2 linked regions of the Homo sapiens genome follow. The protein of the gene in region 1 interacts with the protein of each later gene in a biochemical or structural test. Each region holds a gene or a part of one and is shown in the gene's direction. Other genes may lie near its edges.

What was found. Proteins that work in one complex are often made in the same cells at the same time.
Region 2: the proteins of CNTN1 (region 1) and PTPRB form a complex in vitro, tested with the Homo sapiens proteins (2 studies listed by BioGRID).

Annotation. Positions count from the first base shown.
Region 1 is NC_000012.12:40,688,149-40,695,777, forward strand, and holds the start of CNTN1 (contactin-1 isoform 1 precursor), read left to right. Parts: upstream 1-4,290; 5' UTR 4,291-4,444; intron 4,445-7,629. UniProt on the Homo sapiens protein: Contactins mediate cell surface interactions during nervous system development.
Region 2 is NC_000012.12:70,634,130-70,641,271, reverse strand, and holds the start of PTPRB (receptor-type tyrosine-protein phosphatase beta), read left to right. Parts: upstream 1-3,842; 5' UTR 3,843-3,876; coding exon 3,877-3,931; intron 3,932-5,205; coding exon 5,206-5,601; intron 5,602-7,142. Other genes in the region: PTPRR (receptor-type tyrosine-protein phosphatase R isoform 1 precursor), read left to right, coding at 1,995-2,088. UniProt on the Homo sapiens protein: Plays an important role in blood vessel remodeling and angiogenesis. Not necessary for the initial formation of blood vessels, but is essential for their maintenance and remodeling. Can induce dephosphorylation of TEK/TIE2, CDH5/VE-cadherin and KDR/VEGFR-2.

The DNA of each region.
Region 1 (7,629 bases):
CAGTATTTAGTATTCAAAAACTTTCCCGTCCTGGTCTCCCCACCACGTGGCACTGATAGTGTGTGTGTGTGTGTGTGTGCATGCAAGCTTGGTGCACTGTGCATCCATCCCATTGCCTGGATTCCCAGTTGGCTATGTAAAAGCTAGGTCAGTGAGCTGACGTGATCTCTGAGATGCTGCAGACTGGGTTTAGCATGACTCTCTTTAAACCAGCAGGCAGAACCTTGGTTACCTTTCTGCTGTGGTAATTGCAGCTTAAAATATTAATTGGAAAAGGCCCGTTTTCCTTACTCTCCTGCTTTTTTGCCATATCGAGTATGTTAGAAATTGTTCTGGGAAGCCTGGAGAAGTGAGGAAACGGTGGGCGGAGCAGAGGAGAAAGAAAGGGAGTACATGCTGTGGAAAGCTGCACTGTTGCTGTAGTTTCCTTTCCCTTCACTGAGGTTTAATCACTAGTTGGAGGAAATTGGAATGTTTGAAGAAGGAGGGCCAGTGCAGGGTGGAAAAAGGAGGGGAAGACAGGAGAATTCAATAAGGCCAAGGGCAGTTTAGCAAAGCAATGCCCAGTAAATTGTACTATGGAACTCTGTAAGTGACTAGGGAGTCAGAGCCATCCAGGGCACATGACAAAATTGTCCTACTGTTTCTTTTGAAGATCTGCAGACAGGTTCTATACCAGACTGCCAGATTGGAAGCCTTCAGACTATTGTTTCTATAATTCCCTTCTTCCTAATTTTAGGGACAGAAGTGCCAGCTGGCCATTCATTTTCCAACAGCTTTCTTCATACCTCGACACCAGTCCTGATGACTCTGATCCCATACTCATGAAGCCGACCTCAAACTTACAAGCACGTTGAATCTGAGCTGAATTTATAGTTAAAGTGGCATGCTTTCACATATTTTTATAGACGCTGGAAGATGAGTACACCAGCTGGATCAGTCCTGAAAACATCAAAAGGCTGGATGATACAGGGAGGAAAAAGAGAAGGAACTCTGCTGAAAGAAATACCAAAACTCTTATTGTTCATGTGGTAGAAAAAGTAATGAATGAAGTCTTAAGACCTGGGGTCTAGCTGCAGCTTTCCCCTAACTAGTCACATGACCTTAAGCAAATTCTGTCCCTCCCTCACAGAATAATGAGTGGAATTCAACAATTCTTTCTTTTTCTTTTCTTTTTTTTTTTTTTTTTGAGACAGAGTTTTGCTCCCATTGCTGCCCAGGCTGGAGTGCAATGGTGCCATCTCGGCTTACCGCAACCACCTCCGTCTCCCAGGTTCAAGAGATTCTCCTGCCTCAGCCTCCTGAGTAGCTAGGATTACAGGCATGGGCCAGCATGCCCAGCTAATTTTGTATTTTTAGTAGACACTGGGTTTCTTCATGTTGGTCAGGCTGGTCTCGAACTCCCAACCTCCGATGATCTGCCTGCCTCGGCCTCCCAAAGTGCTGGCATTACAAGGAGTTCAATACTTTCTAAGATCCTTCAAACTTTCATATTTTCAAAACCATATATTTGTCAGCAAATACATATTAGATGTCTGCAATATGCCAAGCATTATATACCCACCTATAATAGTTTACTGCCTTTGTTTTTGAAGGACCACATTTCTCTTTGGTTACTCAATTTCCTCATGGTGAAATGCGACTAATGATGACTCTCCTGCTTATTTTAGAACACAGAGGGAAATTGTATCTGAAAGTGATTTGGAAAATCTAAAATGTTCTGCAGCAGCAGATACCTTTGACATATTCATTTGTATTGTGGGAACATATGTACAGGTTTTTCTCTTTGAGATAATAAGCAATAACCTGAAAATGCTCTGTTTTACTTGAAAATGTGTGAGATGCCTGATCCAGAGAGAAATTATCTTAATACTGTTCCAGAGTTGTGTTTGCATGTACACACAAAGCTGCTAATTAGATCACAGTAAATGCACAAAGTAACATTGTCTGCTTGAAGAATAAAGAATGTGTTCCATGAGAGCTTGCCTATTTTATTCACCATCACATTTATAATAGTAATATTTGTTGAAGGAATGAATGAGTGAAGCAATGAAAGAACGCAGATAGCAGAGATGTCTTTAGTTTTCTTTTCATTACCAATTTCAATTCTTGTGTTGTCTTCAATATTTAGGTATTTTCTTTGATACTTTTTCTTCTCCTCTGATTACCTCTAGAGGAGAGTATGTTGAAGCTCATTTTGACTCAAAATAATTTATGCTTAGGAATCAAAAGATGTTCGTGTTGCAAACACACATTCCTTAGAAATATTACTATTGTAATTGCTTCCTGAGATCATCTTTAATGTGTCCAATACATTATTCTGCTTTAGTTCTGTAGCACCTAACACAGGGTATGGCATTGAAAAAGTACTCAGTAATTCATGAATGATTTGGCCAATCCAATGGAATAACTGGTGTGAGTACCTGGGACAGAGGTGCATGACTAATAGGAGTATTGTGTAAGAAATGACACAGGGGTTCTGAAATTTTGCCACGGCATATTTAGTCATTTCCATTCAGTGTTAAGATGGTTGTCACCACACAAATAATATCTATTTGTTCACTGTAAATTTTCTCCAGGGTCCCTTCCCACCTTCAAATGCATTATTTTATTTTATTTTATTATTTTATTTTATTTTATTTTATTTTATTTTATTTTATTTTATTTTATTTTATTTTATTTTATTTTATTTTTTGAGGCGGAGTCTCGCTCTGTCGCCCAGGCTGGAGTGCGGTGGCGCAATCTCCGCTCACTGCAAACTCCGCCTCCTGGGTTCACGCCATTCTCCTGCCTCAGCTTTCTGAGTAGCTGGGACTGCAGGCGCCCAACACCATGCCCGGCTAATTTTTTGTATTTTTTGTATTTTTTTTTTTTTTTTTTTTTTTGAGTAGAGACGAGGTTTCACCGTGTTAGCCAGGATGGTCTCGATCTCCTGACCTTGTGATCCGCCTGCCTCGCCTGCCAAAGTGCTGGGATTACAGGCATGAGCCACCTCGCCCGGCCCCCACCTTCAAATGCATTAATCGGATTCCTTCAGTATTATGAAGAAAACATTATGAAGAGCCTTACCTGATGATAGTAATAACAACCGTAACCACTAAGTAGAGTCTATATTTATTAATAGCAATGTCATCTTCTCTAACAGTTGTCCAGTGTCCCAAGCCTGTCATAAGCTCTTTGAAGCTCTGTGAGAATGAGAGTTGTGTCTTATGCTCAGCACTTAAGATGGCTACTTAATTCAGATAGAAGAAGAATGTGGCTATTTGCAGGCAGAAGGCAACTTGATTCCTCACATGGTACTATATACTAAGACACCCTACACTCCCAGTTTTACACGTGGTAGTTCTAGCACGTTCCTTCATTTAAGGAGTCTCTTGAATTCCAAAATTTCCAGATTCCACCTGAATAAATGGCAGAGATGGCAACTGGACACAAAGTTATTTTACCCTGTTCCCTTCACATAAAAGGCAGGCTTGGGATCACTTAGGTTTGGGGGCATAAACATCCTCTCAGTGTCTGAGTACTAAAGAAATGATAAACTACTATCAATAGAAAAGTAACAGATCACTTAATTATCAATCAGTCTAATGGTGATTATTTTAAGACTTTTGCCACAAACTGAACTGCCCCAAAGCAAATCTCTCATGCAGTTTGGCCTTAATTTCTTTTACCCTTTTTTTTTTTTTGAGAGGTTATTATGCAGTGCTTTCCCGTTTAAAACACTGTTTCTACCAGGGAATATTAGGGGGTCTTCTGCATTACAGACTAAGCAATTCCGTCTTTTCTCAAGAAAAACTGCCATGTTACATCTGGACAAAAATGGAAACTTTAAAAAAAAACCTCACATCGTTTTATTTTCCTTTCTGTGTGTGTATTTTTTCCCACATAAGTATCTTATTATTTCCTAATCGAAGCTCATTCTTCTCTATGAGGCGCTGGCTTGGTATTTTCGCCTGACAAATCTCCCGGAGCAGATGGTCCCTTCAGGGAAGCTTCAGGAAAGTGCTGGGTGTCTAGTTATGCCTGGACCCTCCCTCCCTCTTGGGGCCCCAAATGACAAGTCATCAAACCAGTTTCTCTCCAGCAAGGGTCCTTGATCCGGTAGCAGCAGGTTTGGGTTTCAGGCACTGCAGAGACCCTTTGCAGTTGGGTTTAGCAGCTACCCAAGTCTGCAGCCTGCGCTGGTCCTGGGGGTGAGAGTGATATCCCTGTTGTCCAATCAGAGAAGCGGGTTTCCCTGTGGTCCCCGCCCCACTTTCCCTGCTGCCCCAATAACCGCCCTAAAAGGCCGGGCTTCTGCTGTCAAGTAGCCAGGGTGGGCTCCGCCGAGGCGAGGAGGGGCGCCGGTGGGGAGATGCGCTCCCAGGTGTTTGCAGCGGAAGTGGGAAACCTGTAGGGTATGGTCCAGCTGTGCCGCACCGAGGCGAGCAGGAGCAGGGAACAGGTAGGAAGCTGGACTTTTCCTTCTTTGCAGATAAAATAAAGAATGCGCATTTCCATGCTGTTGCTTCCCTTCCCCCAGCCCCGCCCAGCCCTCGTCACCCCCAAATCTCCTGTGGTCCCTGCAGCTCTCGCCGTGCGGCGCGGGAAGGACTGGGGCGGAGGTGGCTGGGGTGCGGGGAAGCAGGGGTGCGGGATGCCGGAGCCCTGGGGTGCCGGGCAAGGCAGGACGGCAGTGCCCTAGAAGAGGGCTCCGAGCTCGGGGTCTGTGTCTCGTCAACTTTCCTTTCGGAGGCTGCCGCCGCCAGCGCCGGGAACTCGCCCCAGGGATGCCATATCGCCTCGGCAGGGGAGGGGTGGGGAAGCAGAGAGGTCGGCAGCCCGGGGCCTGCAGGTCTTTTTCTCCCGACGCCGGCCCGCACCTGCTCATCTTTCCCATCCCACCTGGGCGCCTGGCTAGCGCATCCCGGAAAACCTGGGAGCGGTTGCGGAGAGGGGAGGAAGCGACTTGTTTGTCCCCTGACCCCTCTGTTAAGATCTAGCTCCCTTCAGGAGATGGGGGTGGGGAAGAATCCCTGCAACTCGAAGGGCACGTTCCGATTAATTACGTCTCCGTTGAGAAGGCACCGGCCCTTCTCCACGATCTGCGGCAGGTGGGAGGGAGAGACCGCGGAGCCACGGCCCCTTCCCTCCTAGCCTGGCGCTGTCTACGGGAACCACCTTCACACCTAGTTTCTGAAAGGTGGATTTGGCTTCAGGGATTTCCAGGGAGTCAAGTGATTGTGCCCGGATGGGCTCCGAGCGGCTGCGAGGCTGCCTCCCTAGGTGACCGCATCTGGGTAGTAGGTGTTGGCCCAGTGCCGGTTCCTGCAGGAGTCAGATTGCTGGGAGCAGTAGGCAGAAGAATTGCAGAGAGATCCGACGCTGCATCACCCTCTGGGACTGATGACACCCTGCTTTGAAAATTCCTGAAAAATTGGGATGATGGGAAAGAGGGAAAGCGGATAGCTGCGACCTTTCCTTATTTATTTATTTATTTTCATGCCAAACCGGGCATGGGTATTCGTACGTGTGCTTGTGTGTGCACATCTCCAAGGTGGAGCTATATATAGCTCCTGCATACCCAGCCCGGCTTCCCTGCTGCTGAGCCGGCTGCCTTGGCCTTCTCAAGCAATCTGGAAGCACTGAGTGGGCGGGGCAAAAGGGAATCCAATTCTCCATTGGGGGAAAAGCCGGAGAAGAAGCATTCAGACTGCTGAAACCCTGCGTGAAATAATGTTTTTGTAACTCACGTAAAGATCAATATTTCATATTTCATGTTTTCAATATGTCATATTTCATGTTTTCAATATTTCAGTATTTTGCAAACATTCTTAGAGTGCCAATATAATCTTCATCCATTTCGCCGCATTTTTCGGTTTCTAAGTGTACATATGAACCTTACCAGCCCGAAGTGTAACGCAAATCAAATTAATACATGCCGTATCTGGGATATTTTATTAGACTCGGCATAATGGTTTGGTTATTTGGTAGTAAATTTATTTCAGTGGTAACTTATGGCTAACAGCATTTGGGGATCTGGGAATGGATCCACCCACTTTCCAGGACTAAGGAACTGCTAGAACCCTTGCGGGGGTAGATGTGAGGTATTTCTTTGTACAGATTTTACATGTGGACCTGATATTTAAATTTGTACTGCTTTTTCATATCACATCTATTTGTACTATGTGAACTTTCTTTTATAGATTGATGTATGTGCATTTATCTTTGCCATTCCCTGAAATTACTTATTCCTGATGACAACCTTTCCATTTTCACAGATGAAGAAACTAAGATTCAGAAGACACAAGTGATTGGTTGAAAGTCTTCTGAAAACTTTAATATTCCAACAACCTGCCGTGTAATTATACTGCATAGCAGTTTCCCCTCAAATAGAATACTTTTTAGCTTCCCAGGATTTTTGGTCCTGGCAACAAAATGTGGTTAATGTTGATACCAGGAACAATATAAACCAAGTTTATTCGGTTCTAGTCTGACATGTATCCCTACAAAATTTAATTCTGTGTTTTAAGAACAAAATTCTAACTTGCCAAGTCATTTTGAAGATAAATTATTTAATCTACCAAGTTACCATCATAGGCAGTGCGAGCTGGCTTTTAATTTTGCTCTGCAACTTCCTGATGATCTGATTTGGAGCAAGATAATTAAACTCTGAGAATCTGTTTTCTTGTCTTCAAAAGGAATTTTATAGCATTGAAATTTCAGGTTGCTATGAGGGCCATAAAAAGCATGCATGTTTCTATCATGGGGATGGGCGCATAGTGGGTCATTAATAAACAGGGCTACTGGTAATAATAACAATACATAGGTATGTATCAACTAAATGCATTTTAAAATTCATGGTTCTAACAAAACGATCACTCCTCTTCAGAATCTCTAGTAGACTATTTTCACTTGGGAACTTAATCATACTTAGTCTTATTTTGTTGCTTAATCCTCATTTGTATGTCTGATTTGTTTTCTAATTAGGAAGTACTTTGCAGAAAAAGACTACACTTATAATCTTTTTGTATACCCCACCACATTGAACACAGTCCTATAATAAGTAGCCTTAAAGATTCTTGTTCAGGAAGCATCATCCTAAGAAGCTGGATGGGTGCAGCAATGATTTGGGGATATTTTTTTGGTAGAAGGCTATGCCTTGGGAGGAAACTTCCTCTGGCTTTATGATCCTCTCCATGAGGAGTAATGGATGACATAAGGTGTTTCTATATCTTTTCATAGAATGACTCGGTTCTACAGTAGGGATTATGACTATGTACTGGTTCTATGTATTCTCTTGTATCTTGTGTCCCTTGAGACCAACTAGGAAGAGCTGAAATAGACAATTTATATTTCTGTATACAAAATATGTCCTGTAATTGCCTTATTTCAAAAAAAATCAACAAATTCTCCAATTTCCATCTATTTCTACATGTAAATTGGCCATGGTCTCTATCATATCCCACAACTTATTCTAACTCACCAGTAAGCTCCTCCTCAATTCCAATGTTTGTTTTCTTTTTATTGATGTATTATCGATTGTTCTCTTCTGACCTTCTATTTTCCATATTGTCCATCTTCTTGAAATTTTGCTCCTTGACACCACAATGCTCTGATAGCGTACTTTTTTCTTAATTTTTCTAACTT
Region 2 (7,142 bases), about 30 Mb from region 1:
ACATACTGTCTGCAGCTCAAGAGGGAGTAATGGTGCCCTGAGCTGTGCAAATGCCAGAGGAAGGGAGGCACCTCTCAGCTCCCTGGAGCTACCCTAATATTTACTGTGGTGGTGTCTCCCAAGCTTCACAGTTCAAGCCAGCATCTTCGGAACACCTGCTATGATTTTAGATGAGCCCAGATGTCATCACACAGCTAAGAAGATAAACCATTACCACATTCTCAGCTGGCCATTTCTGTTGTTCACTTCTGACCAAGGAATACTTAGCCCAGAAGGTTGCCTTCAATGCAACAAAATGTACAGCTCTAGGGGAGGAAGACCAATTAAATACTTCTGTCAATAAGTTGCTGTCACCAAAAACTGTGAATTTACCTCTTTATTTTTTGCCAATTACATCATTTTGACATCATGTTAATTTTCCTGGGGAATCACTGTTTAGTTTAAAACAAGGAAGTTTTACTGCTCTAATATTGACATAGATTGACAAATAAACATAGAAGCCCAGTTTTTATTATTACCATTAACTAGAAGTCTTGTTACAGTGAGACAAGATATCTTGTTTTTAAGTTGAAGTGCCTAAATAATCTGAAAGTTATTTTGAATGATACTAACAACCACTTGGAAAAATCTGGTTAAAACATAGAGTTAAACTAAAAGATAAGATCAGTTGCATGATTGCAGAGTTACAGAGAATTTACAAGACTTTAAATAGTTACCGATAGTGATGCTTTTATACAGTGAGCAGGAATAGTAACATATTAATGTCTGGTAACTTTGTCAAGCTAAAAAATCATAATTATAGGACTGGACACCGTCGTTCAAGCCTGTGATTCCATCACTTTGGGAGCCCAAGACAAGAGGATCACTTGAGTCCAGGAGACCAGCCTGGGCAACATAGTGAGGCCTTGTCTCTACAAGAAAAAAAAAATTTAAAAATTGTCCAGGTGTGGTGGTGCCTGTGGTCCCAGCTACACCAGAGGCTGAGGTGGGAGAATTGCTTGATCCCAGGAAGTTGAGGCTGCACTGAGCTGTGATCATGCCACTGCACAACAGCCTAAGCAATTAAGGAGACGTTTTCTCAAAAACTAAAATTAAAAAAGGATCATAATTATGAAGGGGGAAAATGTGATATAGGTATTATGTATATAAAAACATAATGAGAAGCACCGTTATTTCTCATGAAGGCAAGTGCTTTCTATGAATCCATTGACAAGGAGGGTGCTGGGCAGCTAGTGATGATAATGGTGATAACCAAGAGGAAAATGTCACAGCAGAGCCAATTCCCTTTTTCCAACTCATTTAAGGACCCACCCACTATTGTGTTTAGACACCCCGTACACCAAAAGGCTAAGGTTGCTTCTGTACAACATATTCAAATAAACCATTCCAAGGTAGACTTCATTTTACTTGTAGAAAGCAACATTTTGCAGATGAGTTTTGTTTGGTTTGTCTCCGTCAATCAATTTTAAGCCAAATGTATAAACCATTTTAACAAGAGATGAATCATGAGGCACCTGAGAAGTAATACAAATATACCAGCTACAATGAATTTATTTAACCTTCACAGCAGTAGTTACTGTTACTATCCTGCTTTAACAGAGGAAGAAACTAAAGTGCAAGGGGTTTCGAGGAATTTGTCCAAGATGCATACAGCTAAGAATTGGCAGAGGAGGGATTTGAACTCACCTTGGCTGATGCCAAATCCAAGTACTTGATCATTAGGCTGTACCACCTCCCCAGTAATGTTACACAGGTAAAAATTAATCACGTGCCTAGTGTGTGCTGGGAACTGTGTTAAGCCCTTTATATACATTACCATGTTAACTTTGATAGTTGAGACATTTGGACACAGGTAAGAGGGATAACAAAAGAACCACTAGGTCGACTGTTCTATGTGTCTTTGGCATAATACCCTAGCTTGGATGAAATCTCTGTGTTACTTGAAATTGCAAGATTTTAGCAAAATCAGTTATTTTATGATTTCTTCCTTGCAGAGGTGGAATGGTGCAAACCAGTGAGCAGTATGAATTTGTGCACCATGCTCTGTGCCTGTATGAGAGCAGACTTTCAGCAGAGACTGTCCAGTGAGTCATTGAAGACTTGTCAGACCATCAATCTCTTGGGGTGATTAATCAAATTACCCACCCAAGGCTTCTAGAAGGAGCTTCCTGCAATGGAAGGAAGGAGAAGCTCTGAAGCCCATGTATGGCATGGATTGTGGAAGACTGGGCAACATATTTAAGATTTCCAGCTCCTTGTGTATATGAATGCATTTGTAAGCATCCCCCAAATTATTCTGAAGGTTTTTTGATGATGGAGGTATGATAGGTTTATCACACAGCCTAAGGCAGATTTTGTTTTGTCTGTACTGACTCTATCTGCCACACAGAATGTATGTATGTAATATTCAGTAATAAATGTCATCAGGTGATGACTGGATGAGCTGCTGAAGACATTCGTATTATGTGTTAGATGCTTTAATGTTTGCAAAATCTGTCTTGTGAATGGACTGTCAGCTGTTAAACTGTTCCTGTTTTGAAGTGCTATTACCTTTCTCAGTTACCAGAATCTTGCTGCTAAAGTTGCAAGTGATTGATAATGGATTTTTAACAGAGAAGTCTTTGTTTTTGAAAAACAAAAATCAAAAACAGTAACTATTTTATATGGAAATGTGTCTTGATAATATTACCTATTAAATGTGTATTTATAGTCCCTCCTATCAAACAATTACAGAGCACAATGATTGTCATTGGGTATATATGTATTTACTCTCTATTATTGGGCATAAAGGTGGCTTCTGCTCCAGAACTCTATCCACTGTATTTCCACATCGTGAGTCATTTTACTTTAAAAGGGAAAAACAAATTTGTAGCAACTCTGAAGTATCAAGAGTTTTAACTACTTGTCTCTCTTTTGCTAAGAAGGGATTTTTGAATATGCTATCTACCTGGAATCTCTCTCTCAACAAAAGGTATATGCCTTCAGGAATGATATAATCTGTCCCATTTTCGAGGCTCCTTATAAGGACATTTCCATGTATGTCCTTACATTTCTGAAAGCTTTCAATCTTCAAGAGACAAAAAAAATTAAAATAACTACCCTCAGCAAACACTAGCTGTTCTGCTCATATATGAATTTTTAATGCAGCAATGTTGACTTTGTTTCATACTGCCAATAAACTCTTAATACTAAATACTGAGTAAAGCATATTCTTTTTTTTTTTTCTATTTGGAAAGACGCCATCCTCTGTTTGGGGAAGACCAAAGTAGATAATGTGATGGGTTTAATTTTAGTGTCTGCATCTCCCCAGTGAAGATGACGATCTCAAAATGTAATATTGTCATCACTTGGGAGATAATGATCTAGAAGTGCCATCATTATGTGGTTTTCCTCAATAGACTCGCAGCATATCATTATACAAACAGTACATGTTTATGTCTTTATATCACTTGTCATAGACCCTCATCAATTACATGGCTTATGTTTATTCAGCAGAATCACATCACCTGAAGAGATGTAATGTTTCAGGAACATTCAATTATCTGAGATTTCAATTCCTTTCTTTCTTCTTGAGGTTAAGAAGCAGTCACATGCCAAAGGAAAGGTAGGTGAGGTCTTAACGAGATTTACTCTGCTCTTGAAGGCTGGAATATTTTCTACATTAAAAAAAAGAGGTAATCATAATCCCTTCTTTCTAAGGAAACAGACAAAAGGACACTGGTGTAAAACTTCCCCAAACAATTCAATAGGAGGAAGTGCTCGTCACTGACTTTTCCCCCCACCATGAAGGCACATTTCCTTCCTAGTCTTTGCTTCTCTTATCTGGGAGAATTTTTTTTTTCCCCAAGCGAAGCATGAACAGTTGCTAAGTGGAAAATGGAGGCTGAATTTTACATGGTGATTCTTACCTGCTTGATCTTCAGGAACTCAGGTGAGTGGGTCTGCCTCAGTGTCCTGAGGCATTTCTTCAAGATCTAGCCAAGGAGTCCCTGGTCTTTGAAGTGTCTGAAATAAGGTAGAAGGGGCCAGGTCTCCATGGCAGTTTAGCCAAAGACGATGAAAAGCAGGAATAAAAGGAGCCAGCTATGCCCATACTGTTGAGATTTCTCTCCAAAAGAAAATAAATGCTCTCCTCTCATCCTCCAAATGCTTCAGGCAGCCCCTGAAATGATACATTTAGAGCAGAGCGTAAAGAACCCCGAGGAAAAGTTTGTATTATTATATAACAGTCTGTGGCTTTCCCCAAGCCTTTTTCCGACCCGGTTATAGTTTTATTTTCTTTTGTGTTGAAGAAAGAAAATTGAAGGAATATGATTAAAGGGGGTGAGGAAATGTAGTGTGTTTTATTTGGAAGTTGTCATTTGGGAGGGCTGAACATTTTCATGAGCGAGCTGGGCAATTTAAGTAAAACCTCATTGAAAATGGTTTCTGAGCCAGAGTATCTTGCTCTTTAATACTGATGTTTAGCAATTTGATGTTTAATTTTCTTACACTGGCACATGATGATTTTTAGAAAATCTATTCGTATTTGAGAGAAAACTGTAGATATTGTCATAAAATAGAGAAATGCTCCTCTCCACGACTAAAGGAAATTTAGTTTGTGATAATCAATACTTTCATTGGCTGCAATTAGCTAGGAGGTTGTGCTTGGAGAAGTGGGAAAATTTGTTTTATTTTTTGATAAATGTATGCAATTTTAAAAAATTGTTATTCAAACTATGAAATTTGTATATAAATACTGCAATGTGAATTTAAAGACTGGAAAAGGGGGTGCTTTTTTAAGGTAAGGGAGGAAGCTTATATCGAATATGTCAAATGGTTAAAAAGGGAGCTGAGCATTTCATAACTTCAGCATATCTAACTAATTGGGCTAAAATATACTATATACTTTGGATGGTTTTGTTTCTTTCCAAGCTTCCTTTCATTTTCCAATAAGAGGTGTGCTTTTTTCCCCTAAAGCATGTGAAAATTAAAAAAAAAAAAAAGATGGGGAGTTAAGTGTAACATATTGACATTTTATATCGTCAGCTTTGGAATTTTAAATCACATGTGTTAAATATGAGAATGTTCACTTGAAATGATAGAAATAACAAAATATAAGTAAAACTAGTGATTTTATTTAGCTCATTTGTGGGTGGGTTCTTCCGTTTTCTAATGGGCCTCATAATTTGCTACATAGTGCTTTATGAGCTTTTCATCTTCCAGAAGGGTTTCAGATTGTCCATGTCCAGAAACAACAGTGTCTTTTCAAAAATGAGAAAGTGGTCGTGGGCTCATGCAACAGGACCATCCAGAACCAGCAGTGGATGTGGACTGAGGATGAAAAGCTCCTTCATGTTAAATCTGCACTGTGCTTGGCCATCTCCAACTCTTCCCGCGGCCCCTCCCGCTCAGCCATCTTGGACCGCTGTTCCCAGGCACCCCGATGGACCTGCTATGATCAGGAAGGCTTCCTTGAGGTGGAAAATGCCTCTCTCTTTCTCCAGAAACAAGGCTCCAGAGTAGTGGTCAAGAAGGCCAGGAAATACCTCCATAGCTGGATGAAAATAGATGTCAACAAGGAGGGAAAACTGGTCAATGAAAGCCTCTGTTTACAAAAAGGTGAGCTATTCCTTTCAGAGCAAATCCTGAAAGTCTTTCTACTAAATATCTTGGGGGTTTTGTTTGTTTGTTTGTTTGTTTGTTTTACATTTAAGGGAAGTCCACATGCCCCAACATATTTCCTATGGAAGATTCATAAGCTAATGGAGGTGGATGGTGACGTGCCCAATGATGGAAAACTTCATGACCCTCATTAAAATAAGCCCAACTTTTTCTATTGCTTTTTCTTCCTTCCCTTCTTGTCTTGCTTCTTTTATTAATTCAACAACTATTTCATGAGCCTCTCTTCTCTGCCAGTTAAGCACTGTTAGATGTAGGAATATGGATGTAGGCATATACACAGCCTATATATGTAATGACTAAAGTCAGTAATCGGAAAATTATTAGATTTTATTGACAGACACTTCTATTTGCTAATTATAATAAATTATTAGAACATCAGAATGGTGCTTGATAAGACTGGAAGATAGTTGTGTTTTTGCAAATCTCTTGTATTGCTGTTTAGGGGTAGATATCTTTTGGAGGTAACACACTTTTGAAATGTTAAGAATCAATGGGCAGCCACAGATTTTTCTAATTTATTGACCATTAATGGATATAACCCAGATAATGGACACATGTAGAAAATATGTTATACACATGTGCAAGCTCCTGGTGCAGGACACAGTTCAGTCCTGAGCTAGGAATTTTTGCTTGTGGAATATATAGGCAGTTTAATCTTCTCTTGAAGTTAATCATGCAATTGTGTATTTACTCTTCTATTAGAGGTTTGCTTTAGAAAGTCATGAAAGATAAAACTGATGAATCACAATATATTAGGCACCAATGAACCTTACAAAGCATGGGAAAAGTTATCAAGAAACGAAGCGCCTCACTAAGAAGACAAATTTTTCAGGGTTAAGTAAATTGTCCCAGATAAATTAGCAGCAGATCTATGATTAGAGCCTAAGTTTTTTGACTCTTTGTTCAGTGTACATTTTACTATACCAGAGGTTCCCAAATGCTTGACCACAGACTTGCCCCATGGCTTGCCTAAGAATCACCTGGGGTAGAAAAGGGAGGGCTTACTAAAAATACACATTCCCGTAGCTAATGCATCCTGGGCTTAATTCCTAGGTGATGGGTTGATAGGTGCAACAAAGCACCACGGCACACGTTTACCTATGTAACAAATCTGCACACCCTGCACATGTACCCCAAAACTAAAAATAAAAATTTAAAAAAAAATACACATTCCCAGGATTCTTTCCCACCATTTTTTCCTCTACAACCACCTCCAAGATTCTGTTTCAGGAAATCTGGATTTGTGCATAATACTTGATATTTATTAATCACCAGAAAATTTTGATCCATAATCCAATATGGAGATCAGCATCCACTGTATTGTTAAGTCTTTTCCTTAGGTGTTGATTTGTGAGGCTTATATTAGTCTTTCCACCATGGTAATCTTTGGACAATTTTTTCTCACTCATTCATTCTGTAAGTTAAAACAAGCATTTAACTAGATGCCATTTGAATGTGTTATGCTTTTCTACAATAAG